Homo sapiens: one gene and its partners. The protein of the gene in region 3 interacts with the protein of the main gene of each other region in a pairwise test. Each region holds a gene or a part of one and is shown on either strand. Other genes may lie near its edges.

Region 1 (7,023 bases), on a different chromosome or scaffold from region 3:
TTCCAACTGTCGCAGGAATCCCTGCCAGTAAAGTTTCCAAATGGAGCACAGACGAGGTATATTTTATTTTCTTTGCTGCCCGACACCAGATACAGGATTACTGGCTTAAGAGGTGTGGAACATTGAGCGTAGGTAGCGTTTAGTCTTTTTTTTTCTGAAAGAGAAGAAATTATTGTGAGAGAAATAACTAATGCATATGGGTTAAATGTTTTGAACCTGTAGCATTTAGATTCTGACTGTGTTTTTTAACTGGGAATTTTGATATTGCTTTTGACAGGTGTCAGAATTTATACAGAGCTTACCTGGGTGTGAAGAACATGGAAAGGTATTTAAAGATGAAGTAAGTATTCCACTAAATTGCAATATGTTACTTAATGGGATCAAAGCACTGAAATGCAGTGGAAGGTGAAATGTGTGGAATTGGCAGAGTCAAAAAGAGATGGGGTGTGTTGAAATTGACAAATTGATGTATACTAACAGGCAGTATGAATCAGTTGTATAAAAATGTCTTTGTATAAGATGAGATGCATAAGAATGTTTGTGAGTACCATTTTATGATACCCCACAGCAGTAACACTAGGCTCCTTATAAAAAGAAAACCCACAGAACTTAATAGCATGCATTTATATAGTTTATAGCACAGAGGAAGCCAAAGAAAGAAAGAAGCAACATTTTCTCTTTTTAATAAAGTGAAATTAGTTTCCATTATTTTATTTTCCAGTGTCATTCTAACAACACCATGATTGACTCCATTTGAGGTTTATAATAAGTAATATTAGCATTATGTCTAAAAAAATCCCTTAAGTCATATACATTCCTCAATAATGTTTATAATAAGATATTTATCACAGTCCACTTTTGGAAGATTATTTTATTAGTTGTTTTCAACTCCCTCTCCAAAACTTCAATATAAGGGGTGATTAAGAATGATATCACTTACAGTGAGCACTAGAATAAAAAGGAATCTGGTTTCTAACTTTTAATTCTGTAAGCGTACAGCAGGAGACCCTTTTCAGTAGAGACCTTTAAAAATAAGCCACTTGCCTGTCATCTCCTCCAAGCAAAGCAGTCAATTACCCCTCTGATTTTGGCTGTGTCTACTCCTGCCAGAAGGCAGAAAGTAGACTGAGTAATCTCAGAAGGTGCTCTCCAACATCTGCTGTCTACAGTTACACGCATACACAACTTGTTTGCCCCTATGTGTAAAGCTCAACTGTTAAGAACAGCACACTTTCCATTTCATTGCAGGAGTATAGACACAGCTAACAATCCAGCCACCAGTTGTCAGTGTTGTTATACTGTTAGGTATAATTTATGCGTTAGATGAAAGCTTGTTAAAATGCACAAGGATCTGATTTCCAACATCCTTTTTCTGATTTATGTTCTTATTGTGCAAAGGTTTTATTTTCTCTCTGTTTGATCTTTAATTGGCAGTTATTCAGATTTTCTTTCCCTAAGTCCTGAGTGTCTTCACTGATACTCTCAATTCATTTTCTGTTTTTTCCTTTTTTTTTTTTTTTTTTTTAAATCGAGATGGAGTCTTGCTCTTCTCTCCTGGGCTAGAGTGCTCACTGCAACCTCCGCCTCCTGGCAGAGGCGATTCTCCTGCCTCAGCCACCTGAGTAGCTGGGATTACAGGTGCCCGCCACCACGCTCGGCTAATTTTTTTTGTATTTTTAGTAGAGACTTGGTTTCACCGTGTTGGCCAGGCTGGTCTCGAACTCCTGACCTCAGGTGATCTGCCCACCTCGGCCTCCCAAAGTGCTGAGATTACAGACGTGAGCCACCGTGCCCAGCCTGAATTCATTCTGTATCGCTGAGCAGACTTAGAGCCACATAGGGAGCTGTTGGTCTGTCTTGGAAAATGTCATGTTGTCATTACCTTTGAAAATAATAAAGCATTTTTGAAAATAAATTTATAATGCATCTCTTTTATAACTTCTGTTTTTTTATTCTGTTGTTATCTAGATAATCCCTATAGGTTTGCTCTATTATTCAGTTTGAGTAAGATTCAAGTTTAAATTCAAAATGAGATGCTATTTTTTGAGTAATTTTTTTTATTCATGGCAGATTGTCTTTGGAGATGTTCCTCAGTTACCAAATATGCTCAAAGCTAGATCCTTTTCTGGAGGAGTGAGATAGTTAATATTCTCTGTCGATATGAATTATTCATTCATTTACTCCTTCATTCATTCATCTTGTGCACATTTGTTAAATTCCGACCATGAGTATGTTACTTTGTGTCATGCTCTTGTGAGAAGGATGATTCGAAAATAATGAAACCTAGTCCTTGTTCTCAAGTGTCTCACAAGGTCAGTGGGTTTGGGTTTTGAGTCCTACAAGTAAACCATAGTACAAATCTAACCGAAGTCTTATAAATCATCTTTAAAAGGCAAAGGACAAGTATTCAGATAGGCTGTTGTTGGAAATTATCCTTGACTTCTCTCTTACACATGCCACATCTCATCTGTTGAAAATCCTATTGGGTGTATCTTTGAAACATGTAAAACCCTTATCACCCTACTGCCACCACCACCCTGGTCTGCGCCACCATCCTCTCCCACTTGGATTAGTGCAGTAACCTCCAAACTCATTTTCCTGCTTCTGTTTTTGCTCCTCTACAGTCTATTCCCAGCACAGCCAAGGTTACCCTGCTGAAACATAAGTCAAACCATGTCACTCCTCTGTTCAGGTCCTTCCAATAGCTTCATCTCTCAATCAGAGTAAAAGCAGAAGTCCTTACAAGGGCCTGCAGTCTGACACCTCATTACCTCTCTTGCCCCCTGGCTTTTTGTTTACACTGCCCCTCACGAGTCTACGTGCTGGCCTCCTTGCTCTTCCTCTGATTGTCCAGGCTTGCTCCCGCTCCTCCTTCTGCACAGAACACTCTTCCTCCAGATGTTCATGTGGCTCACTTCTTCTGCTCAGATGCCAGCTTGCCAATTAGTCCTGCCCTGACTTTCTTACTTGAAATTGCCTCTTGTCACCACACATGCATCCCTGCTCCTGCTGCCCATTCATCTTCCTAGTCAGCTCTGTTTAATCATAGCACAAATCACCTTTTTTTTTTGAGACAGAGCCTCACTCTGTCGCCCAGGCTGGAGTGTAGTGGCACAATATTAGCTCACTGCAACCTCTGCCTCCCAGGTTCAAGCTATTCTCATGCTTCAGCCTCCCAAGTAGCTGGGACTGCAGGTGCGTGCCACCACACCCGGCTAATTTTTGTATTTTTAGTAGAGATGTGGTTTCACCATATTGGCCACACTGGTCTTGAACTCCTGACCTCAAGTGATCCACTGACTTCAGCCTCCCAAAGTGCTGCAATTACACTCATGAGCCGCTGCTCCTGGCCAACATGAGTCACTTTCTAACTTACTAATTAATTGGCTTACTTAGTATGTTTATTGGCTTATGGTCTGTCTACCACTTCTAGAATGTAAATTCCACAAAAAGTTTTTTGCTTGCTTGGTTTTATTTGTTTTATTCCCTGCTATATGTCTAAGCCCAAGAAGAGTGTTTGGAATATAATAGACATTCAGTATATTTTTGTTGAGTGAATACATTCATGCCTTTACACTCTGAGAAAGACTCACTCAGACAGAGCATGTCACTGTGGTTTCGAGTTAAGGCATTGGAAAAGAACAAATAGTGAATAGTGGAAAGGGCAGTGAAATGGAAGGCCAGAGCTCCTGAATTCCAAATCCCTCTCCTTTGTTTTAGGCCATTAGCAAGACACCTAATGTCTGGAATAATGGCATTGTATATGCATTGCAGAAGCTAACCGAAAAAAAAGTAAGCCTTGTAATACATTGCAGTGGTCACTGTTGTTCTTAGGATGTACTTTCCTGAATTAAGTTGACTTCCTTCCAATCAAGACTTGTTTGTATGGCCACATGTCAGAGCAACCTGTATGTAATAAAGAGTTTGGAAGTAGCCTCAAGATTTTTTTTCTTTCTAGTGTATGTAACCTTATAAATAACAACCTACCAAAATGTATCCTTACTGTCCCACTTTTAACTTCAAATCCCAGCCACTAAGTTCTCTGGATGTTTTTTTTTTTCATCAGTTACCTGTTGTGTTATACTCTTACATAGTTTCAGAAGGAGACTTGCTGTCTGCGCCAGGCCTTCAGTAGGGCCAAGGTTGTAATAAACCAGTCAGCCTTTGTAGTGGGCTCCTTGGGAATGTCAGTTGACATTTTCATTAATGACTTAGAAGACTTCTATAAGGCTGTCCATTGTACTAAGGTCTGCCTTGGTTGAGCGAAGTGTTAATAGATCTGCCTTTCTTCCTGACCTTGCTTTATCAGAGGACTGTCATAGCACAAGCAAATGAGAACAGACCAATGTTTCCAGAAAACAGGAGAACATTTCTCATACCTGCCGCTTAACGGTGCTACACTTGGAGATTAACACTGGAACGTCTTTCCTTCTAGTTTACAACAGCAGGATGTCTTTTTACTGAAATTAGCACACTTTTTCCACATAATTGTTACTTGAAGAAGTTGTGTAAGATGACTCCAGTTCTTACTGATGAAGCATTTAGGCAGTCTATATTTACAGGTCTTTCATTTTTAAAGGAGAGAGGAAAATCTTAAGAAGTAGCAATTTAATTATATCAGCCTTGTTTAGAGAACTGTTTGCAGAATTTAGAGTTGTCTTAGTTTGCTAGGGCCACCATAACAATGCCAACCACAAACGGGTGGCTTAAATGGCAGAAATGCATCGTCTCACAGTTCTAGAAGCTGAGAATCTGAAGAAGGCTAGAAGTCAGGGGGTTGGCAGGGTTGCTTCCTCCCGAGGGCTGTGAGGAAAGAATCTGTCCTGGGCCTCTCTCCTTGACTTGTAGATGTGACTTGTAGATGGTGGTCTCTCTTTGGGTCTTTACGTTGCCTTCCCTCTATATGTGTCTCTTTCTCCAGATCTCTCCTTTTTATGAGGATACCAGTCATAATTGGATTAGGCACCCACCCTACTCCAGTGTGACCTCATCTTAACCAGTTACCTCTGCACTGACCCTATTTCCAAATAAAAGTCACATTCTGAGGTACTGGGAGTCAGGACATCAATATACGAATTTTTGTGACAGGGACACCATTCAACCCATAACGGAGTGCGTTGCTGTCAAGGTTTCTGATGTTCTAAGGCAGAGAACAAAAGTGTGTTTTACTTTTTGTACAAGGTGGGAAAACTGAAAGGGAAACTTTTTTTTTTTAAGGTGATAGAAGAGCTGAAAGTCATAATGAAAGACTGTTTCTTTGCTCTGCCCAGTAAGCCAGACATCATTTTCATAGTATTTTATCTTTTAACCTAAAAGATGTGTTGTACCTTTGAACTTCTAGAGAATAGTAGCCTATTTTTCAGAAGCATAGACTTTTGTCTTAGAAGATGTCCAGAGAGAGGAAGGGTCTTTCTCATAGTTACCCTACCTGCGTATTAGAAGAACCACCTTAAAGTCAGTGACTCGTAACACCAGCCTCACATTCACTGTTTGATTGCCCCGTTAGTAAATGCTTTTCTTCTGTGTGTAAAGACTTAACTGTGGCCACACTAGAGATAAGTGTTATCTTTCTGATTTTCTTTTCTTCATGGTGGAAGGCTAATTCTGGAAAAAAAAAAAATGTTGCATGTAGCTGATATGTTTGCCTGAGTTATTTTATGTCCACAAACATTCATGTACCTGTTATCTCTTCTAATTTTAAAACCTGCCATGATAAAAACTAGACTTTGGGCATCCTGGATTTTTCCATATTCTTCTTAACTCTACAACTAATTCAGAGTAATCACAGGAAGATATGGGCACCTTCTGTTTTCCTTTGGCTGGTTTTTCAGGTGAATTAGTTTACTTTGTTCCCAGTCCACTTTGGGATGTGTCATTGTGGATAAGAAAGGTCCATATATCAAGAAATGTCATTGCACACGTGAACTTCTCTGTGCTTTTTTAGCATTGCTATGTAGAAGACAGCTGGTAATTTAACCTTGAATATTTTCTACAACACTGCATCTTGTTAATCCACATTCTGTTGTTTTTTTCCCCCATTTTAGCAAATTGATGGAGAAGCATTTCTACTTATGACTCAAACAGACATTGTTAAAATTATGAGCATTAAACTGGGCCCTGCTCTCAAAATTTTCAATTCCATCCTGATGTTCAAAGCTGCAGAGAAGAATTCTCACAATGAACTTTGAAGATGGTGAATTCTGAATACCATCAGCATTCTGCTTTAAAGCTCATGTTTTATTCAAAGCACAAGGACGGTTATAACTCCTAAGTGAGAAGTCTCCAAAACTCAAAAGAGCAACACTATCGGATTATTTATATTACTCAAGAGACAATATATATGAATTCTTATGAAAGTGCTTGAGCTTTTAACCAGGTACTGTCTAACAACAGTCATCTTTTGGTTCTGTTCACTGAGCTAAATTTATCTTTGTAAATCTTTTTGAGTCTGGGGGGTGGGGGGAAGGGGGGCTTCATTAATTATTTATGGTAATGGGGGGCAGAGTAAGAACTTTTGGCATTTTGTAAACATTGTTGAATTCTCTTTCATGTACACTGTTTCTTTTTCAATACTTTCAGAAACCTTTTTATATAATCAAATTTCAATTTAAACCAAATTAGTCGAAACCTGGCTAAGTTTAGCCAGTAGGACTGTTATCTGTATTGTTAATTTTGTGCCATATTTTGAATTGCAACATTATGCTAAGTATAACTTTGCAAGTCATGATATTGCCTAACTGCTTGTCATAATTGTCAGGGCTGAATAGTTGTAAGAATGACTTTTCTTTGAATCAGTATTTTTCCTTTTGCACGCATTATGAAATGTTAAACAAATTACTTTTCACCAGCATCTTTACTATAATTACCAAAAACATGTATATAAAAGAATGAAATTGAAAAATAAAATATATAAACATAAATAAATTAGGTAGTGTATTTTGAGTGGCATCAGTCTCACTCATCTTGGTGCCCCGGTGTTTACAAGAGCCAGATGGTGTCAGAGGAGTACGCAGTTGTATGCAG
Region 2 (7,112 bases), on a different chromosome or scaffold from region 3:
GGATAGCGCTGTCCCGTCGCCGGTGTGTACTTCTGCGCGGGAACAGACTTGCGCAGCACGCTGGCCCAGGGACGGATTGAGCGGAGCTGAGCCCTCAAAGAACTTTGGGTATCTCCTGAGAGCCAAGGCATTTGCTGTGGTTTGATGTGTCCCCTCCAAAATTCAGGAGTTGCCTAAGTGACAGTATCAAGAGGTGACTAGGCCGAGGGCTCCTTCCTCGCTCGTACGATTAAGAGCCTTATAAAAGAGGCTGCACCTCCGCCTTCTGCAGTGTGAGGACACGGCACAAAGGCCCTCCCCAGACACCAGTACCAATGCCTGGATCTCGGGCTTCGCAGCCTGCAGAGCTGTGAAAAATCAGGCCGTTCTTTGTAAATCACCCAGTCTCAGGTGCTTTGTTAGGGCAGCAGGGACGGCCCAAGGGCACCTGAAGCAGTTAGAGCTCCACACTGTCCCTGCGGTGCGAAAACAGCAGAACCCCCACAACCTCCCCTCCCCCTCCCCCCCGCCTCCCCCCCCCCCACCCGCCCAGCTTCCTGAGCTGTCAATCGATGTGGTGCTGAAATCCAGTCACTCAGGGAGGAAGGGCAGAGCAAAGGTGGGAGGTTTGCAAGGAAATTTGGGGTGGCAGAAAAGAGGGTGTACCCCGGAGGCCTGAGAGCTGAGTTTGGAGGTGTGGGCCACGCTGGGCCACAGGAAGTGGCAGGTCTGTCACCACCTCACACACAGGGTGAAGGACAGCGAGGGGGAGTGCTGGCAAGACAGGTCTGTGGGTGGGATGGGAGGCTGGATTTGGAGGGAGAAGATGCAGGAAGCTCTGCCAATGAGCTGCCAGAGAACGGAGAGGGCGTGACAGGGCTAAGAAAAGGACGTCTGCACACTGAGGCTCGCTCATGGATGAGTGCTGGGCACAAGAAGGAGGAAGGCAGGGGTGGGGGGCAGCCGGCCCTGCACGCTGGGGAGGCGGGTCGGGTGGTTTGTGCCAGCGCAGGGCATCTGAGTCTGGCATGCACAGGGATGGACTGCGGTGGCTTGACCCCAGGAGTCTGGTCTGGATTTCCGTGGTTCCCAAGATGTGACACTATCCTGGCCCTTGGGACAAAATCCAGCACTCTGGCCTGGCTCCTGCAGACCCACCACCCAGATCAGACCCTTAGGGGAAACCAGGTTAATTCTGGGGCAGCATCTGGAGGAGGAAACATGGAGGAACAGACCTCAGCCCACGGGGTCAGCCGCTAGCACGGGCCTGGGGGCAGGCGCAGGCTGCAGCCCCAGGAAAGTGCAGCCTCTGCACCCCGGAGCAGGGGGGCTCTCAAAGCAGTCCCCGCCACGCCCTGCAGGTGGCGCTCAGGCCCCATGGACTCCGGGGTCTCACCATCAACAAGTGCCCGGGCAGAGTCAGGATGTGGCCCTTCTCACCTTAGTTTTAGGTCAAGTGATGTGATAGGGAGGGGGAACGAGAGGGCAGGCGCCATCGGTGAAGTACCTGGGCTGCCGAGGGGGCGACCAACCCCACACAGGAGGGGCACTGGCTGCTGGTGCTCTACGCAGGCCCCTCTCGGAGACTCAGGCCCTTTTGTGAAGAGCCTCCGCCCTGCCCCGTGTCCAGGAAAGCCACCTGCGAGGACCCTGCCCCATGGAGTGTCCCCTCGTGGTGCTGACGTCCTTGTCTTTGGTGTGTGCTGTATACCCACAGCAAGGTCTGCAGGCTTCACCAGATTCACATTAAATACCTTAGTGAGAGTGTTTTAAAACGGGGACCTTGAGGCAGGGTGTCCCCAAGTCCCAGCCCTGCCAGCTTTGGGGGAAAGGCTCTGGGCCCCATTCCATCTCAGAGAGGCCAAGACCCACATGTTGCAGTCTGCACACAGTAAGCCCCAGGCTGCAGGATTTGACCGAGTCTTTATCGTGGCTTCCGTTACATCTTATTCTAACTCAGGTTTACGGACACAATGCTGGAAAACCAATTCCTGCTCTACCCACGCCTCAACTTGTTAAGAAAAAACAGGATCTAACACCGAGGAATGTCACATCTTCGCCATTCCCACTTCCTTTCTGCCCTAGGCATTCGATATGTGCCACCAGGGGCCATCAGGACTAGGGCTCTGCACCCATGGCAGCAGACAGGTGTGAAGCTCAGAGTCCCTCCTAACAGCCTCCCTCCAGCGTCTTCTTGGCCTGCAAGATAAAGTGTTTTGTCTGAATGGCTTGCTTCCAAGTTAGATACGCCTCAAAAGCAAGCTACCACACCACACGTTGTGTTCTACCAAATACCTTACAGAGAACTTGGGTGCTGGCATATGGTGGGGGCTCGACTGGTTGGAGCCTGGGGCCCCATGGGCAGGTTCTCTGGGTCACTTGTCCACGGGACAAGGGCCTCATGACACTATCACAGAACTCACTGCTGCCCCCTCCTCTGAGCCCCCACGAGATGCCACATTTGGTCTCAAGCTCTCATAGAGGGAAAGCAGGAGCCCCCCCCCTTTTTTTTTTTTTGAGATGCAGTCTCACTTTGTTGCCTAGGCTGGAGTACAGCAGCGTGATCTCGGCTCACTGCAACCTCCACCTCCCAGGTTCAAGTGATCTTCCCACCTCAGCCTCCCAAGTAACTGGGACTACACCACCATGCCTGGCTAATTTTTTTTTTCTTTTTTTTTGTAGAGACGGGGTCTCCATATGTTGCCCAGGCTGGTCTCAAACTTCTAGGCCTAAGCAATCCACCCACCTCAGCCTCCCAAAGCGGTAGGATTACAGGCACGCGCCACCACACCCAGCAAAAAGTGCAACTTCTGATGAGTTGTCCACCCCTGGATCCAAGGCTGCTGGGGCCGGGTAGGGATGAAGGCCGTGGAACTCTTGTTCAAATACCCTTTCTCTGGTCCAAATCTCCGGATTAACAGCTCCCAGTAAACAGAGTCAGCACTGGCATCAAGGCCTACCCAGATACACTGAGGTGGTACCCGGTGCGGCTGACACTTAGGGAACCAGCCTCAGAATGACTTAAAGCCCCACGGGCAAGAAGCCCTATCGTGCCAGTTGTGAGGGTGGCTGGGGGTTCCCCGCAGGACACGTGCTGAAGGAATCCACCACTGCAGGTGCACAGGGGCTGCAAGTGCCAGGGAGGTGAAGACCCGGAAGGTGCTGGGCACTTTCCGGGAGTCCTGTGTTGGGTCAATCCTGGCATGACACCCCCCGGCGGCAGTGCTAACACGAAAGCTTACGCGTTTTACAAGGCGCTTTTTTGCACACATCTCCCATCCTTTCTGAGGTTGGTGCCAGTCCCGCTTTACAAACATGCAGGGACAAGCCCAGGACGGCCGAGGTTTCGCGGGCTCGTCGATGGCTCGGTGATTTTGTCAGCCGGCGTCTAAAGCACGCGGCAGGCGCTCAAACCTTGAACCAACGGGAAAGCAAAGGAAAGCCGGGGCCCGCTGGCTCTTGGAGGGGAAGGGCTGGGAAGGGGGGAAGGGGCCCGCGCCCACCTACCGCAGCGGCGAAGCAGCTCCGCAGGGCCTCGAACTCCCGCGCGCAGAAGTCCTTACTCAGGCGGCCGCCCGGGGCCGTGGAGGCCTGCACGCACCTGCCGTACGCCGCGGCCTGCGGAAAGGACGGGCGTGGGTCGTGGGGTCCCCTGACCCCGTCACCGTCCTCCCTCCCAGCCACCTCCCCGCGCGGCTCCTCCTGCCCCGCAGCACTGGCCCGCCCGCGGCTCCTCACCTCGGCCCCGCAGGCGGCCAGCCGCTCGGGGAAGGCGCGGAGGCGGCTTCGCACGCGGCCCCACACCGCTCCGTTAGCCGACATGAGCGGCTATTCCCAGCCCCCTGGAGGCCGCCATCTTAGGTCCGTCCTCTTCCGGTGTCAAACAGCTTGATAGGTCGGCGCTTCCGCCCATAACCTTTCCTGAACTTCTTAATTGGCCAGGCTTTGCCTGGCCTCGAGCCCCCGCAATTGGCTCTTGTCCTAGTCTGTCTGTGCTCTGGGACTTCGGATTGGCCTAGGCTCCAATTGTTTACGAAGCCAACCTCAGGGCCCGCCCTACCGTGAGGGATTGGCCGGCGGACCCAGACCCGCGCAGTGATTGGAGGGCCCGGGCCTGGCGGAAGCGGGGCAGACCGGGAGGGGACCTGGATCATGGCTGCCGCGCCGCCGCTACGGGACCGCCTGAGCTTTCTACACCGGGTGAGTGAGGGCGGTCCGCCCGGGCCCCGGTCCCACGGCTCCTCTCGAGCGCCGCATTCCCCGGACTCGCCCCGGGCCGGAGCCATTGACCTTGCGTCTCCGCGCCGGGTAGCTGCTCCTGGCCCCTTCGCCCGCGCCGACGCCCCTGAGCTGCCCGCCCGCCGCGCCGTCCCGGGGCCTTCCAAGCCGGGCCTTCCAAGCCGGACCCGCCGAGCGCAAGGGCGATGGGCACAGCCAGACCCTGGGGGAACGAACAGGCCTCGGCCAGCATTCAGTGGCCTCCGACGGGAGGGAAGGAGCGGCGGACCCGGTGGACGTGGAGCCGCTGTGTCCGTGCTGCTGGCGCCCAGGTGGGCTGGCAGCCCGCCGTCCTCCCTGACGGTGGCGTTTCAGAGGACTCCGGTCCTGGAGAGGCACCCCTGGGTTGCAGAGAACACAGACGTCTCGAAGGGACAGAGAAGGACGCACCATTGTAAGCCCCTCTTAGTAAACCCTCTGAGAAGTAGAGGCCGGGGCGAGTTCCCAGGTGTCGTCCTGAGCAAACTGCCCTCTTTTGTCAGCCCTGAGCTTTCCTGGGCTGGACCTCAGAGGGGGCTGGGTGGTCCCAGGGCGCGACCTTGGGCTGCCAGAAGCCACGCTAGGGTTGGTCAAGGCTCTCAGTGCAAGGTTTCGACATAGTCGTTCTGTGCTGCGTTCTGCAGTTGTCAGCTGTCACCTGCAAACCTCAGCAGCTCCCCTTAGGGCGTGGTGGGCAAACAGTGTCAGTGATGCGTGTCCACAGCCTCGGGAAACACTTCAGGTCCACGTTTTCGTATGTTGTCACTAGATCTCGGCCCTTCCGACCGAAAGGCTTCGGCACCTCACGCGGTGGGTCCCATGCTTGTCCTGTTAAATACTCTTGAACTCTATTCTGTCCTGATACTGAATAATGCAAGAATGGGTGGTTCCAGTTTTCATCCCTATAAACCGTACATCTTTGTGCCAGTAAGTAAGCATGAAACAAATAAGTACGTCTGCGCTAAGCGAACGTAAAACACACGACATCAGTCGGTTCTCGGGGAGCGATGGAGCTAGTCACGCTGAGCGGCTGTCACTCTGCCATTCCGGCCTCTGGGGAGGTGGAACGATTCATAGTCCCCTGTGTGGAAAAGGGGCTTGCCTGGGCCTTGTTTGGCTTTGCTAGTCAGTAGGTAGGTACAGGAGAGGTACCTTCAAATAGCCTTACATGCTGGTAAGTGCAGGGAGGCTGGGGGCTGTGTCCCTTCTTAACCCAAGTGGCGCAGCTCCTCCGTGGAGAACCACCATTGATTTGCCTCTTCTCCGAGGCTGTTCATCCCTGACTGTTGAGAGAGGACCCTGCTGCAGCCTCCCTGTGGCCAGTAGCACAGTTCTCATCCCTTCCCAGTCCTCTCTCCGGCCATGTCAACAGTGAGAGGTGGGTCGTTTCCATCCCCTTTGGGGGGCTGCGGATTCACCCCTGTGGGAAATGGCACCTCATCATGGTAGGGGCTCTTGTTCCCTTTCAGCTCCCGATTCTCCTGAAGGGGACGTCCGATGATGATGTCCCGTGTCCGGGCTACCTGTTTGAAGAGATTGCTAGTATCCTTCCTTGATGTCCCCGTGTAGTGGAAAGAGCGGATGGCAGGGTCCCAGAGTGGTGCAAAGGGTTCCTGGGGATTCTGCTGTCCCTAGGGGGATGCACGGCTCCTTTATTATTGTAACCAGGCATGGGTGGGGTCTGAAGGCTGCAATACTGATGACACAGGGGACCCTAGAAGCCCAGGTGCTCCTGATGGCAGAGCCTCCAGTAGGCGCCTCCAGGGAGCGTGAACTGAGAGGCCCCATGGCCTGGTCTCCCTGCGGCCTGGCGCAGCCCTCATCATCTCGCCCTTCCCTAACCCGAGCGTGCCGCAGAAATCTCCCACGAGTCTCCGGGCAGCAGCCAGTGCCTGCTGGAGTACCTCCTGAGCCGCCTGCACAGCAGCTCCGGCCACGGGAAGCTCAAGGTGAGCCCCTGGGTGGTCAAGGGTCAGGCCTGAGGCCCGGCCCACGGTGGTGAGGATGGAGGAGCAGACGAGCGGCCCAGGGTGGCAGGCAGCTCTGTGCCCTTGGGGTGCCCCCGGGCCCTGCCCTGGGTGTCCCGTGTCCGGCCTGCCCAGCACTGCTGACCGCCCCACTCCCCAGGTGCTGAAGATCCTGCTCTATCTGTGCAGCCACGGCTCCTCCTTCTTCCTGCTCATCCTCAAACGCAACTCTGCCTTCATCCAGGAAGCTGCAGGTACAGGGGCCGCGCACGCGCTCAGGAAGAGCCAGGGCTTTGGAGAATGGGGGAGGGTGGCGGATCCTCCAGGTTTGAGAAGGAAGACTTCAGCCAGAGCCCTCACCTGGGCCGGGTCCCGATCAAAGCCCCGCCTTGCTGATCCTGGCCCATCTCTGGCCTCTCCACCTGCTGCCCACCCTCACCCCAGCTGGCCGGCTCGGCCTCCCCTGACGCGCCCTGCCCCCTCCCTCCGCTGGGTCCTCCGTGCCTCCTATGCGTCCCTGGGCCTTTGGCTGCGTCTGTCCCTGCGCTTGCTGCCCCGGGTGCCAGTTTGTTTCTCTGTGTGCCCCACGGGTCTTCCCCCTCCATCCCAGTGCCCACACATAGCAGACTCAGTGCCTGTTCACACATCCTTCCCAGGCTGTGGGTTCCCCTTCTGGGGCTGCTCCTCGGAGCCCAAGACAGAGTGAGGCCATGGGAGGGCGGAGCTGGGAGGCAGGAGAGGCGGGGCCCCGGCCAGTCGGTCTGTCCAGGCAGAAGATGGGTCTGGGGGAGCTGTCCCCGCAGGCTTGGGGGCAGTCCCATGTGCCTCTGCCTAATGAGGACTTGTGGGGGCTTGGCCTGAGATCTTCCATGGGGTGGAGGGAGGCCTGGCTCCAGGTGGTCACTGGGC
Region 3 (7,388 bases):
AATTGAGCAGACCAGCTGATCCCAAAAGCTTGTTAATTTTTATGGTTTTAAAAGAAGCCATATCAGAAAAGAGAACTTGGAAGCTCAGAGAGGTCAAGCCCATGTCAGGGCCACACAGCAGGTAACAGATGCAGGCCCGCAGCCCTGGTTATCTAAGGATATGGGAATGGGAGAGAGAACAGGTGGCAAGGGGAGGTCTGGGAGAGAGAAGTGGCCCCAGGCCAGGAGCTCTGGAGAGAGTCAGAGCTCCTTTACCCACCGAGAAGGAGCTGAGCTTCACACCCACTGCCCGGTGCTTCCTGCCCAGGCTGGCAAGGTACTCCTCCAGTGAGGACAGGTCTTCCACATTGGTCACTGCAGCATCAATCACGAGCATCACCTGCCAAGGCCAAGGCAGCAGTGAAACAGAGAGGCCAGAGCAGCCCCATCTGCTCACAATCACAGCCCAAGGCATGAGGGTCCCAAAGCAAGAGAGGCCAGTAGGACCCTCAGTTCTCCAAGATCAGGGGTCAAAGGCAGCCTGTGTCTACTACATGTAGGGGGCACCCGATACGTGGTGGCCAAACTACTAATGTTATACCCATGAAGGAAGCCTCTCTCCTCTGAGAAATTCACATCTCTAAACACACCTACTGGAGAGTGTTGTCTGCTGGGACAAGGAGAAACTGAGGCCCTTTGAGAATCATGAGATTCTAAGAAAATCTCAGCCTGATTTTCATAGGCAGATAGTTCCCAATTACCAGGATCTGTGCTAACACAACCTATGGGAGCCAGAGGACAAAGGCAATGACACAGGCTGGGACCAGCTCTCTGAACGCAGGGTAGGGGAAGAGGCTGATTCTGATGTCCCAGACCAATCCAGCCCAGAGGGAAAGGAGCTGTACCCTGCTTGGGGGAACTGGAAGGGAGTAAGACTAGACCTGGGGCAGAAAGTCATTTTCTCCATTCTCCACCAGGGAGGTGCTCTGCTGGATCCCAGAGGTCACAGCAGCTCTGCCTCCCTCTCACCTTCCTGATGTGGTCCAGGAACTCAGGCGAGGAGAGACAGTCCTCTGGGCTGGAGAACTGGCGGCAGTTGTACTGGAAGAGGGGCAGCAGGTCAGGCTCCAGGGCAAACAGCCTGTGGGAGTGAGGCCCAGGTGTTAGCCCTGGGGTGTGAGCTCCTGCAAGCCCCAGCAAGCCTGGCTGTCCTGCAGTCAGCGGGCGGGGGTGCCAAGCCAGGTCTCAGCTGCAAACCACAGCTGACTCTCCCACCTGGCACTGCTCCCCCGCCAGCTTCGGTAGTGCCCTCCTCCTCATGCCTTCTACTGGCTCTGGGCAGCATCCTAGAAAGGGCAAATGTGTCCCAGGGCCTCTGGTAAGCAGGGGTCCCTCGGTGAATAGCTGAGGGGTGTGATTTGGGACAGGAAGAGGTCCCCAAACAGGAAACCTGGAGTTACGTTGTGTGGAGAGGAAAGCCCTTTCTCTCTCTCTCTCTCTCTCTCTCTCTCTCTCTCTCTCTCTCTCTCTCTCTCTCTCTCTTCTCTCTCTCTCTCTCTCTCTCTCTCTCTCTCTCTCTCTCTCTCTCTCTCTCTCTCCCTCTCCCTCTCCCCCCCCCCCCCCCCCCCCCCCCCCCCCTGCGCTGAGTACTTTCCGTGTGGTTAACTTTTAACTGTATTCCTCACTGTCCTAAGCAGTGGGTACAACTGTTATCCCAGTTTTATAGAGGAGAAAACAGAAGCCCGGGGAGGCTAGAACTCGCCTAAGGTCACACAGCTTGGATGTAGTGCAGCCACAGCGGGTGCCTGAGAAAAAAGTGAGCTGGGGGGAGTCCGGAGGCAGAAGCAGAGGCCCTCCTCGGCATTTGGGAGGTCTCACCGGGTAACTGAATGTTTTCCCCTTTTGTCTTGGGGGTGGTTTTGCGGAAGCCTGGGTAGAAGTTCTGGACTGTCCAAGGGTGCCAAGGATAGGTAACACCACGGTGAGGGAAGCAGTGCCCGGTTGGTGATAGCGGAAGGGTTACCAAAACTGCGAGCTGAGGTTGGAGACTGGCCTTCCCTTCCCACCCGGCCTGCACACCCCCCACCCCTCTCCCCTGCGGTGAGGCTCCCGCATCTGTCACCCCTTCCCCGGCTGCTCTCTGGCTCTTTCCTCGGAAAGGTTTGTCTTGTTGGTTGTCAGGGATCCACACACCTGGAGCCAGACCGCTCACACGCGGGCGCAGGAGCTCGCCCCACACATCTCCCTTCCCCGGCTCTCGGGGCACCCCAGTACCCTGATACCGGCAGCGGGGTGCACCCCTGCAGTCGCTACCTAAGGAAGACGCAGGAGGCACAAGGCGGGGTGGAGGCGCCGCGCAGGGACGGAGGTCCACCCGCCCAGATGTGGGGAGATCCGCGGGAGGGGATCCCGCCCGGCCCGGTGAGCCCCGCTGGGAGAGTGGTGTGCGGCGCTGGTTGGCAACAGGCGCCCACGGTCGAGAGAGAGGCAGAGGGGCTGTGCCACCCGTCGCCGCGCCCCGCTCCTCTGGCGCACATCTGGCAGGCGCCCCAGCGCCCCGGCAGCGGCCAGTTTTCCCTCCTTCGGGGCCGGTCCTGCCGCGTGACCCCTTTCCCGCCGAGGCAGCCTCCACCCGCATCCCCGGGCGCTCGTGTAGCCCTCACCTGGCAAACAGGACGGTGCCGTGCTCCAGCGGGCTGCGGCTCACTGCCCGCCAGCTCTGCCGGATCAGCTCGGGCTCCGGGCGCTCCATGCTGTCCCGGGGACGCGGAGCGCGGGGCTGGGACCCTCAGGGCTCGGGTGCCGTCACCGCACGTGCCGCGCCATCTCCTCCGCGACGCGGTCCCCTCCGCCCCTCGTACGCCCCCCGTGCCTCCGCCCGGCGGGGGCCGCAGCCGCTCCTTCCCTGGCGCGGGAGAGAAAAGGCGCGCGGCCAGTCGTAGGTGGAGACACCCCAGCTGTGCTTCCGGGGACCCCGCTTGGCCGCTGCGCCCTGCGCCCCGCAGCCGCCAGAGCCGCCCCACCCCGCGACGCCTGGGCTGGGCGCTTTAAAGCCGCCACGGCCCCCGCCCCCTCCAGGCCAGCAAGGCGCGCGCTCCCTCCGCCAGCCGCTATGGTGGCCTGGGAAAGGCCCGGCCTGCAGAACGTAACTGACATCGCGGAGGCTCTCTGGGCCTCAGTTTCTCCTCCCGAGCCCCGAGGGCACTGTGTTGAATTTGGTCGCCTCAGGTAGGCGCTGCATGCGCCCCCTCTCCACAGGCCCCTCAACTCACGCATTGCCAGAGGCATTTGAGTTTGCCACCCACCTGGCCTGCAGGTCAGGCCTGGGGAGGCGGCCTAGGGGCCTAGTTCTCGGTCTGACTAGGGCACCAGCACACGTTGGGGGCCACCAGGGCTTTCAGCCGTAGGGACAGGGCCAAGACCACAGCCATTCCCAGCCAGGCCTGGGTTTTTTTGAGACTCCATCTTTAGAAAGCCGTGAGATCCAGTTCTAATCCCAGCTCTGCTTGGCCAGGGTGGAATCTTGAGGGAGTTCAGCTCTAACATTCTACCGTTCCATGATTTAATTTTAATTTTAATTTTAATTTTTCACCTCTTCCCTCCCTGGGCCTTCCCCACTTCCATGATTTTTCATCTTTTTGTTTGTTTGTTTGAGACGGAGTCTCACTCTGTCGCCCAGGCTGGAGTGCAATAGCGTGATCTCGGCTCACTGCAAGCTCCGCCTCCCGGGTTCACGCCATTCTCCTGCCTCAGCCTCCCGAGTAGCTGGGACTACAGGCGCCCGCCACCACGCCAGGCTGATTTTTTGTATTTTGAGTAGAGACGGGGTTTCACCGTGTTAGACAGGATGGTCTCGATCTCCTGACCTCATGATCCGCCCACCTCGGCCTCCCAAAGTGCTGGGGATTACAGGCGTGAACCACTGCGCCCGGCCTTTTTTTTTTTTTTTTAACGGAAGTACTGTTTAATTTTTTCAATAGAAGTTCAGATAATAGAATCCATGCTCCCCACTCAGGGTGTGCAATTGGCCACCTGCCAATTACAACTAAACTTTTCTCTTTCAAGCAGAAAGTTCCTCAAGCCCCAGCCCAGTGCTGGTGGCCCAGGTTTGGGAGAGCAAGCCCGTTTTCACCTTTATTTCTCTCTCATTATTCCCTCAGGGGTCTCCGAGCCTATCTCCTCTGTCTGTCCACGCCTCTCTGGCCCTGTTTCCTCAGTTGTGCAGCAAAGGGGTTGGGTGGTGAGGTCTCTGGGACCTTTTAGTCCACCTCCTTTAGTTCCATGGGTAGAAGGTGGGTGTTCTTGAGCCCCTGGTTATGAACAGCTGGGGCTCCATGCCCAGCCCTGTGCTAGACATGGAGTGGCGAGTCCTGGTCTTTAAAATTTCTCCTTCTGGCCCTGAATCAGAACTGAGTGCCTCAGCAGAACTTTTCTTTCCTACTCCTAGCCATGCCCCAGGAAATCATCTAGCTGTTCTCCCTCTTCCAAGGACTCAGGAGTTTGTGGTAACCCCTATTCTATTTCCCATTTCCTCACAAATCTCTGGGCTGGAGCAGGAGAGCAAGGCTATAAGGCAGCCTGGAAAAGCTGGTGTCCTAGGGTCCAAGAGGTCTCCAAGCAAGAACACAAAGTGATTGGGGCTGAAGGAACAAGACGTGACTAAACTTCCAGCTTGGGGTCCCGTGGACCTGCAGCCAGGTGCAGCAGGTCACAGGGCAAGGACACGTGTCATTGGTGACCTTCACTATTCAGTGCCCAGATGCTCAGTGCTCTGTGCAGGCCACCTGGCTGGTCTCAGGTACCCCACTCTACCCAGCTCACGCTTCTTGCCAGCAATCTATACTTAGGACCCATCTTGCTTCCTCTCTCCTCTGGCCAGGGTCTGGAGTCTGATGAGGTAGTGGGAGTTAACGGCCCTAGCTAGTAAGTAGAGTCAGTACTCAAACCATGGCTTCACTCTTTGTCTTCCTAGAGCCAGGAGATATGTGCTAAGATAAGCCAAGGTAAGTGCACTCTATCCCTGCTCCCTTCAAGAAAGGCCTGAGAATCTGGATGGGCCTAAGCGATGAGAGTGATGTATTCCCATCAGTAGACCAAGGGTCCAAGCCCACATTTGAGGGGCTCAGTAAAAGTCACAGGAGTCTCCTCCCTGTGGGTCATCCGCCCAGGAGGTAAGAACCTAGAGGAGAATTCAAGTACTGTCCCAGAGCCAGTGCTGGTCATTGAGGTTCATGTATCATTAATAATACAGAGCTGGCATTTATGTCTAGACAGTGTTCCGGGCACCTTACTTCATTTCCTCTTTTCATCCTCACAATAACTACGAAGTAGGTGCTATTTATCATACCCTCGTTTTACAGCTGAGGAAATGGAGGCAAAGAGGTTAAGTAACTAGCCCAAGCTCACATAGGTAATAAGCGGTGGGGCCAGGATTTGACCTCAGGTCTCTCTGGCCCATCCTGTAGGCCTCCATGCCTCCCTTGCTTTAATGGGCTGTGGCCAAGAGCCCCAGCCATAATTCAGACCAAGCCATGGTCACTGGGTCTGGTTCAGCGGTGTGCTGGAGCCAGCTTTCATATGGCTTTCAAGAACCAACTGTATGCATCTCTTTCCAACTTCTCATTCAGTGACATCAAGTTGGTAGCTTAAAAAAGAACATGTTGGGAATATTTACACCATGGAAATTGGCAAATGCTATACACACCAGTTTTTCCTCCCAGAACACCTGTTGTTAAACATCTACCAGCACACACTGATCTGGGTGCACCTGGGGGAGCCAGGAAAACCTGGGCCCTAGATGAGCGGCTGCTGATGCATTAAGCAGAAGGCCCACGGGAAGGTGCTGCGTCAGGGACCTCGGGCTGAGTGCTCAGGCCTTCTCCCCAGGGTATCTAGGGCTGCAGCTGTTCTGGGAAGGTGCCTCTAGTCCCAGGACAAGACTAGAGAGGCAGAAAAACCCAAACTTGGCACTGAGTCCTGGCTCTACTATTTACTTGTTGTGGGACCTTAAGACAAGTCATTTAATCTCTCATGGGTAGAATGGGAACAAAAACATCATTGACTTCACTGGGCCTTTATGAGGATTAAATGTCAGAGATGTGTTGAGACTTTGTAAACTAAGCTGTGCCACTCAAGGAAGAGTGACTTGGCCCCTTCCTAAACTGCCTGTCGTAGGCATGTTCCACCTCCTGAAGATCCACATGCCCCTCTCTCCCCACCAGCCCCTACCAGAGGGTGGCTAGGCAGCCCAGAAGCCCCCCAGTTCCACAGCACAGTGCTACTCCCCTCCCCCATCCTCTGTCCAACACTCAGGTCAGCTCCTGCTGCCTTCAGCTCCTAAGCATCACTCCTGATAACAGGAGACACCTGTCAAGATGGGGACCTCTGTTAGGCAGAATGGCAAGTTGCTACAGCACTGGGATACTCGGCTGTCTGGGAAGGGGACAACTTCTTCTTGCACTCCTTTCTATGCCATGTGAACAGGTTAAAAGAGGACAAATCAGAGGTCCAGCTTCCTACTTATTTTGGAATCAGTTTAAATATACCAAAATGACGACCAACATTACTCAAGTAACTGTACACATGGGGAGATCCAAATGCCTCCTGGAGTAATCAGGCTCACCTGCCCAGCCCAGGTCTTCTGCTGGAATTAGATCAGCCTCAGACATGACACACGGGGTGGTTCCTGCACTCAAAACATTCTTCTCAGGGAGGCCTTTCTGGGAGCAGAGGGCAAGTCGGATTCAATTAAGTACAAGGACAACAAGGCATTCAAAACAAGTGTTATTTATTATAAAATCAGTGGCTTCTGATTAGAAGACTTTTTTTTTTTAAACCAAATAGGCTCAAGAAGCTGGCTGGAGGTTGAATTGGCTGACGAACATCTTCTTCCTCCACCAGCAGTTTGTGGGACACATCACGTTTCTGCCAAGTGCTACAGCTGAAGCCCATATTCATAGAAGCACCCTGACAGCCCTTCTCCAGCAACTTCCAGAAAACAGAACCTGAGCACTCAAAGCTGCATCAGCCCATGTGGCCTTGCTCCCAGAGAAGCATCTGCCAGTTTGGGCATGGAGGAACAGAAAGTGGGCAGGGAATTCTCCTTGGCTCCTTAGAAGGCAGTGGGAGCCCAGGGAAGCGTTCGGCCCCAGTGCAGCCTAATTGGGAGGGAGGGATGGGTAGAGGCTGGCTGGGCTTCTCCTTCCTCACCCTCATGCAAGGTGGCTGCCCCTCTGGCTCCTTCAGAGCTCTTCCCTTCCAAGTTCCTACTGAGAAATAAGAAGGCACAAAGGAAAATCAGCCACCTCCTGGAGGTCACTGTGGGCCACCTGCTTTGCTAAGAGCCAAGCACAGACCCCTGCATTCTCCCTGCAGGAGAGCCCACCCGGCTCAGAAGAAAGCAATTCCGC
Region 4 (7,023 bases), on a different chromosome or scaffold from region 3:
TCATGTGATGAAGATAAAGTGAAATACAAGCTTTCCTAAGAAAATCCTGTATCACAGGTCAAAACACGCATAAGGCATGCAAGTACTGAGACGAAGCAGAGTAGACACACCCAATACCTGAAAAATGTTCATTGGTTTTACTAGAGTATTGAGGAGGGTCCTGCTGACACCCCTTGGGCTGGAGAGGCCTCCTCTGAAAGGGAGCCCTGGGAAAGGGCTGCTCTCACTCTTCACTCCTTTCTCCTCCCTCAGCTCCACCTGTTCCTCAGGTGCCTGCTCTTCCCCGTGAGGGAAGCCCAGGAGACCAGGCAGCTGCGCTCTTGACAGCCAGGTACCAGGTGAGCTGAGGAACCCTCTGCTTTTCCTCAGGGACTATTGCTACTGATGGAGTGTGGCCTCTCTCTCATCCCATCTGTAGACCTTGCCTGGAATTTTTTTCAATAGCAGACTCCAGTTTGGGAATTGATCCTCTTCGGAGACCTGGACTTCACATAAACCAACTTCCCATCTCCCCAGTGCCATGAGCAAACTCTGTTTTCTCTTTGTCCATGGTTGTGTGATGGGTGCTTATTAGATGTTTAAGGGTTATGGGCTTTATTCCGTAGGTTCTAATCTGTTCTCCCTCCTCCTCAACGTAAGTACACAGTGGATACCCTCTCTATGATCTTCATTCTCTGGCCATGGTGCTACAGTGTTCTCATTCCTCAGAGCAGCCAGGATGTGTTATTTCAGGAGTTTGTGACATTCGAGGATGTGGCTGTGCACCTTACTCGAGAGGAATGGGGATACCTGGACCCTGTTCAGAGGGACCTCTACAGAGAAGTGATGTTAGAGAATTATGGGAACGTGGTCTCACTGGGTAAGGACTTCCTTATTATTCGGTTTATCTATTTGAATTTCTTTACTTTCTTGTTTCTTCCTAAGTATAAGGTCTCTGAGAAGGTCTGTAGAGTGTGGCTTAGATTCCAGGACTTAGAACCTCTGAATCCTTATCTTTCACATCGTCTTCTCCGGGAGGGGTAATTAACGTTTGTTTGGGGGTGCCAAGAAGAGACATTCTCCTCCTTATCCCCAGTTCATGTTTATGGCCATTGTGGGGCATCTTTTCCCTTTTAGCAAAGGGAAACTTTCTTGTGCTTTGCTTGATTTCTCACCGTTCTTTTCTTTTCCATTTTTGTAGGAGAGACCCCAGGGTGGCCTCCCAACCTCCAACCAGACACTTTCCTCTTTGTTATCTCAGTGTCCCTGTATTAGAGAATTGAAGAATTTCCCATTTTTCTAGGAAAAAGAAATGCCGTTTATTTAAAAAGACAGGCTAAATTCCTTCTTGTTGAGTAGTCCCTCACCCCTTAAGATCCCCAGATGTATCTCCAAGCAGGCAGAACTTGAGATGTCATTTGAAGGCATGACTCACTGTGAGTACATTTCAGTGAGTCACCCAGAATGGTAATCCCACGTAACCACACCCAGGGCAGCAGAAATCTCAGATGTTTACCCCATGCTGAGGTGGGGTCAATGCTTAACTCATGTCTCTCCCTTGTCATTTTGAAAGGTACAGTGGGAAGCTGGGATTAGCCAAGCTGTAGTGCTGCTGGGAAGCATCAGTGGGGTTTGTCGGCAGCTCCCTTGGTGTGAGCATTGTTCCTTTTTCTTTAGTTTATTTTTTATATTATATTATATTTTTTATTTTATTTTATTTTTAGATGGAGTTTCACTCTTGTTGCCCAGGCTGGAGTGCAGTGGTGCAATCTCAACTCACTACAACCTCTGCCTTCCAGGTTCAAGCGATTCTCCTGCCTCAGCCTCCCAAGTAGCTGGGATTACAGGCATGGGCCACCACGCCCGCCTAATTTTGTATTTTTAGTAGAGACGGGGTTTCACCATGCTGGTCAGGCTGATCTCGAACTCTTGACCTCAAGTGATCCACCTTCCTTGGCCTCCCAAAGTGCTGGAATTACAGGCATGAGCCACCGCACCCAGCCTCCTTTTTCTTTAGTTTCTTGCTTGCTTCTGCACTCTTCTTTTTGTGTGTGTAAATACTGAATCATGCATTTTCTTTTCTTTTTTTTTTTTCCGTTGGCTTTGTCTATGCTGGTGGCATCCAGGGCATTGCTTTGTCTCCCTGATTATGCTCAGGATTCAAGGTCTTCTTATTTGTGGGGAGGCAGGCTGCCCACTGGGACGGTTTTTAGTGTGTTTTCCATTCCTGGCTCTTTAATCTTTGTAGGCATACTTCTCCGCCTTCCCACCACCCGGATTCATAGTGTGAATTCCTGCCCGGCCCTGAGTCATACCCAGGCAAGTGCTTTCTCTGGAGAAACACTTGCCGTCCTTACAGCAGGAATCTCCAAGAGATGGCCCAAGTATCGGCTTCCCATCGATATTGCTCGTCCCTGCTCGGAAACTCCTTTTCCACGATTGTGAGATATTAAAATTGACTGATGGAATAGAAGCTCCCCAGGATGCCACCACTGTGTAAAATCGCAGCTCCTCAAATTACCTCTGTTTAATTTCAAATGTTAGGGTCCAAGGAAGCCCTCTGTTGCAACCAGATATGTTTTGAACCCAGTTCATTCAGAAACCATGGTTGGTGGTCATCATCTACTTGTATTGTGAAAAACCAGAAATTCCAAATTCAGCTCTTCAGTTATGGTCTTTTCATATTATTTTAGAATGTGAAACTTATGCTGTGTGCCCCTCCTTTTATGTGGCGAACACAACCTGCCCCGTATGGTGCCTAACTCTCCTGTGAACCCTGGGCTTCCCTCATGTTTAACATTCTGGTTTCCTCCTTCCTTGAAGTCCCTGTGGCCCTCTTCAAGGTCCTACCTTCCTACCCTTTATTCTTTGTGGTTCTGTACAGATTGATGCAATTATATTGCCTTTCCTGATTAAGTGTTCCTTACTCTGTCCTTGATGGAGGGGAGAAGGGAGGGCAAAGAAGTTAAATTTATTTCAGGGCATCAAATTGAATATCTACTTAATAACTTTGTAAACTGTAAAGTGACATACATATAATTGTAAAGTACTGTTAATTTTATCTAATAATTACAGAGTTTCCAACAGTTAACCTGTCTACTTTTTGGAGTAAAGAAACTTTGTAGCAGTTTAATGCAGTCTAATAGCATAGTATGCTATAGACTGAACTTTATCCCATTTCCTCTCTTATCTCTGCACTGCACACTCGACATGCAGTCGACATGCATACACACTTTTACACATACAAGAGACACGCACAGTGCAAGAAAGCCTTCTACTCATCTTGCTTTTGTGATCAAGTTAGCAGCATCTCCTTAGCAGTTATTTTTACAATCCTTGGGAAATCATTTTCATATTTTTGGGTTCAGCAGACTTCATCTGAAAATTAACCCATTTATGCCTAGTGTTCCATTATTGGAACACTAAGCTTGCGGGAATTATTTATGTCCCGCTGCTCAAGGTCATCGCCAAGGTCTGATTTTTAACAAAAATTGCAACCTCCAGCATAACTGGGTTAAGTTTATACATTTATTAATTTAACTTTTTAGGGTTGTAAGACTTTTTTTTTTTTTGAGACGGAGTCTTGCTCTGTTGCCCAGGCTGGAGTGCAGTGGCACCATCTCTGCTCACCGCAAGCTCCACCTCCCGGCTTCATGCCATTCTCCTGCCTCAGCCTCCCAAGTAGCTGGGACTACAGATGCTCGCCACCATGCCTGGCTAATCTTTTCGTATTTTTAGTAGAGATGGGGTTTTGCCATCTTAGCCAGGATGGTCTCGATCTCCTGACCTCGTGATCCGCCTGTCTCGGCCTCCCAAAGTGCTGGGATTACAGGTTGTGAGCCACTGCGCCTGGCCTCCAGATTGTATTTGTCACAGACATTAGAACGTTGGTCCTTTGCTTAAGTGCTTCCACTATGCAGCAGTAAATATACAGAGTACAAATAGCTGAGTAAAGAAGTCGGTAATAAGTAATTTTCGTTACCACATAATTGAAAAAAGAACATACTCCATTGATGATGAATGAACAATTTGCCTCTGGGTCACTATCCATAGGGAAGTTACCTGTTACTTAGTGTGGTAGATTAAGACCCATAAAGGGGACCGAGTTGCTTTTCACATGGGTAAGTGTGGCAGGTGCCCTATTAGATGATGGCCTCAGAAGCATGCTTGTTAAAATTCTAATTGATATTAACTGGGTCAGTAGATTGGGAATGTTTGGCACATACTCTCTGCTTTTTTAACTTGATGTCATGAAGGACTACAGTTATTTTGCACAGAATGTTTTCCATTGTCACAGCTATTTAGTATTTATTGAGCAGCCAATATGTTATTGGGTACTATATATATGTATGTATACACACACACACACATATGTATATACACACACACAGACATAGGACATTTATATGTGTGTGTGTGTGTGTGTGTATATATATATATAAAGGATATGTGTATATATCTCATTTAATCCTTACCATAACCCTGTGAGCAGATGACACTGCTCCTATTTTATATCTGAGGAAACTGAGGCTCAGAGAAGTTAAGTGATCTTTGCAGGATCAGTGAGAGGCTTGGGACCCAGATCTGCCTCTGAAGCCCCTGCACTTTTTCACTACTTTGTGCCCTTAGGACAATAAGTTCAACTACACATGGAGTTTTTAATATTTTTAGTGAGTTGTGTGTACTCTGATGACAAGAAAAATTCAAAATGCCATGACAAATTGGACAGACAGGCCAGTATATAGTTTGGGACCAGAAAGGACATGCATTCAAAAAGTAAAACTCTCTAGGGACACATTCCAGTCCAACAGGTATCTACAAAAGAATGATATTGCTAAGGAGAGATATTATTTGTGTATTAAGGACCAGGAAGAAAAGCGTGAAGCTTTCAGATGGCTAAAAGCATAGCCGTAGTAAAAGCAGCAAACCATATGATAAGGCAAATTTTAAATATTATTTTTGAGGCAGGGTCCCCTCTTGTTGCCCAGGCTAGAATACAGTGGCATGATAACAGCTCACTGCAGCCTGGACTTCCCTCCAGGCTCAGGTGATCCTCCTACCTCAGCCTTCTGGGTAGCTGGGACTATAGGCCTGTACCATCATGCTAATTTTTTTCTATTTTTAGTAAAGAAGGTGTTTCGCTATGTTACCCAGGCTGTTGAACTCCTGGGCTCAAGTGATCTGCATGCCTCAGCTCCCCAGAGTCCTGGGATTACACATGTGAGCCAACACCATGCTCAGCTTTAACTGTTATTTTTGAAGACCAGATTAAAATAAATTTTATTAGAAAACTCTCAAGATTTAAATAAAATAATTTTTTTTTTGGAGACAGTCTTGCTCTGTCGCTCAGGCTGGAGTGTGGTGGCACAATGTCAGCTCACTGCAACCTCCGCCTCTCAGGCCCAAGCCATTCTTGTGCCTCAGCCTCCAGAGTAGCTGGGACTACAGGCATGCACCACCATACCCAGCTAATTTTTGTATTTTTAGTAGAGATGGGGTTTTGCCATGTTGGCCAGGCTGGTCTTGAACTCTTGGCCTCATGTGTTCCACATCCAGCCTTAAAATCAAAAGGTTTTAATAACTTAATTTTAAACGGAAAAAATGTAAAGCAAGTGCATATTTTGAAAGCATAGAGTCGGCCAGGTGCTGTGGCTCACACATGTAATCCCAGCACTTTGGGAGGCCAAGGCAGGCGGATCACCTGAGGTTGGGAGTTCGAGACCAGCCTGACCAACATGGAGAAACCCCGTCTCTACTAAAAATACAAAATTAGCCGGGCATGGTGGCGCATGCCTGTAATCCCAGCTACTCTGGAGGCTGAGGCAGGAGAATCACTTGAACCCAGGAGGTGGAGTTGAGGTGAGCCGAGATCGTGCCATTGCACTCCAGCCTGGGTGACAGAGTGCAACTCCGTCTCAAAAAAAAAAAAAAAGCATTCACGTCAATGTCAAGAGAACCTGCTACTAATGCTTTCTTTGATAGGCAGTATGATAGGTTGGAAAGAATATAAACTGGGATCAAGCTTGGGTTCCACTTACCAGCTGTAGTATGTTGAGCAAATTATTTAATCTGACACTCATTTTCTTGGTTTATAAAACATGAAAAATAATGTCTACCTTCTGGGTACAGGATTGAATTAGATTATGCATATAAGTACCTGGCTTGTGTCGGGTGCGGTGGCTCACGCCTGTAATCCAGCACTTTGGGAGGGTGAGGTGGGCGGATCACAAGGTCAGGAGTTCGAGACCAGCCTGACCAACATGGTGAAACCCCGTCTCTACTAAAAATACAAAAATTAGCTGGGCATGGTGGTACATGCCTGTGATTGCAGCTACCCAGGAGGCTGAGGCTGGAGAATCGCTTGAACCCGGGAGGTGGAGGTTGCAGTGAGCCAAGATCATGCCATTGCACTCCAGCCTGGGCGACAGAGCGAGACTCCATACCCCCCGGCCAAAAAAAAAAAAAAAAAATTAAGTACCTGCCTTGTGCTAGTTACTTTAATATTTTGGAAAGAATAGCAAGCGATATGAGCCATAGACCAGATTTTTTAATACAAATAAAAATTTCAGGAGTGTGTTCAAATTATTTATTTATAGTGGAGTTTCCTCAAATTTATTATTGTTTGGACTATTGTCTAGGGATTTGGATTTTTTTTTTTTTTTTTGAAATGGAGTCTCCCAGGCTGGAGTGTAGTGGCGTGATCTCGGCTCACTGCAACCTCTGCCTCCCGGGTTCAAGCGATTCTCCTTCCTCAGTCTCTCGAGTGGCTGGGACTACAGGCACCCGCCATCACGCCCGGCTAATTTTTGGTATTTTTAGTAGAGACAGGGTTTCACCGTGTTAGCCAGGATGGTCTCGATCTCCTGACCTTGTGATCTGCCTGCCTTGGCCTCCCAAAGTGCTAGGATTACAGGCGCGAGCCACCGTGCCTGGCTGGGGTTTGGATTTTTATTGTAAAGGATTTCCATTTCCTTGATAATAAATCATCTTTTAGATCCCTTTTAATTTTTAATTTTAATTTTTTGTAGAGATGGAGTCTCACTA

Evidence for each region.
Region 1: the proteins of NGB (region 3) and L3MBTL3 interact in binary tests that used the Homo sapiens proteins (3 or more experiments, as listed by UniProt).
Region 2: the proteins of NGB (region 3) and TEPSIN interact in binary tests that used the Homo sapiens proteins (3 or more experiments, as listed by UniProt).
Region 4: the proteins of NGB (region 3) and ZNF655 interact in binary tests that used the Homo sapiens proteins (3 or more experiments, as listed by UniProt).

The regions. Positions count from the first base shown.
Region 1 is NC_000006.12:130,133,566-130,140,588, forward strand, and holds part of L3MBTL3 (lethal(3)malignant brain tumor-like protein 3), read left to right. Parts: coding exon 1-56; intron 57-277; coding exon 278-340; intron 341-6,044; coding exon 6,045-6,188; 3' UTR 6,189-7,023. UniProt on the Homo sapiens protein: Is a negative regulator of Notch target genes expression, required for RBPJ-mediated transcriptional repression. It recruits KDM1A to Notch-responsive elements and promotes KDM1A-mediated H3K4me demethylation.
Region 2 is NC_000017.11:81,236,053-81,243,164, reverse strand, and holds the start of TEPSIN (AP-4 complex accessory subunit tepsin), read left to right. Parts: upstream 1-4,109; 5' UTR 4,110-4,131; coding exon 4,132-4,179; coding exon of another isoform or gene 4,180-4,651; exon of another isoform or gene 4,652-5,005; coding exon of another isoform or gene 5,006-5,163; intron 5,164-5,504; exon of another isoform or gene 5,505-5,678; coding exon of another isoform or gene 5,679-5,705; coding exon 5,706-5,778; intron 5,779-6,087; coding exon of another isoform or gene 6,088-6,093; coding exon 6,094-6,185; intron 6,186-6,363; coding exon 6,364-6,457; intron 6,458-7,112. Other genes in the region: NDUFAF8 (NADH dehydrogenase [ubiquinone] 1 alpha subcomplex assembly factor 8), read right to left, coding at 2,012-2,178, 3,483-3,597, 3,718-3,801. UniProt on the Homo sapiens protein: Associates with the adapter-like complex 4 (AP-4) and may therefore play a role in vesicular trafficking of proteins at the trans-Golgi network.
Region 3 is NC_000014.9:77,268,207-77,275,594, forward strand, and holds the start of NGB (neuroglobin), read right to left. Parts: upstream 3,001-7,388; 5' UTR 2,732-3,000; coding exon 2,643-2,731; intron 1,121-2,642; coding exon 1,009-1,120; intron 380-1,008; coding exon 260-379; intron 1-259. UniProt on the Homo sapiens protein: Monomeric globin with a bis-histidyl six-coordinate heme-iron atom through which it can bind dioxygen, carbon monoxide and nitric oxide.
Region 4 is NC_000007.14:99,561,636-99,568,658, forward strand, and holds part of ZNF655 (zinc finger protein 655), read left to right. Parts: intron 1-252; coding exon of another isoform or gene 253-338; exon of another isoform or gene 339-660; coding exon of another isoform or gene 661-859; intron 860-2,227; coding exon of another isoform or gene 2,228-2,424; exon of another isoform or gene 2,425-3,070; intron 3,071-7,023. UniProt on the Homo sapiens protein: Probable transcription factor.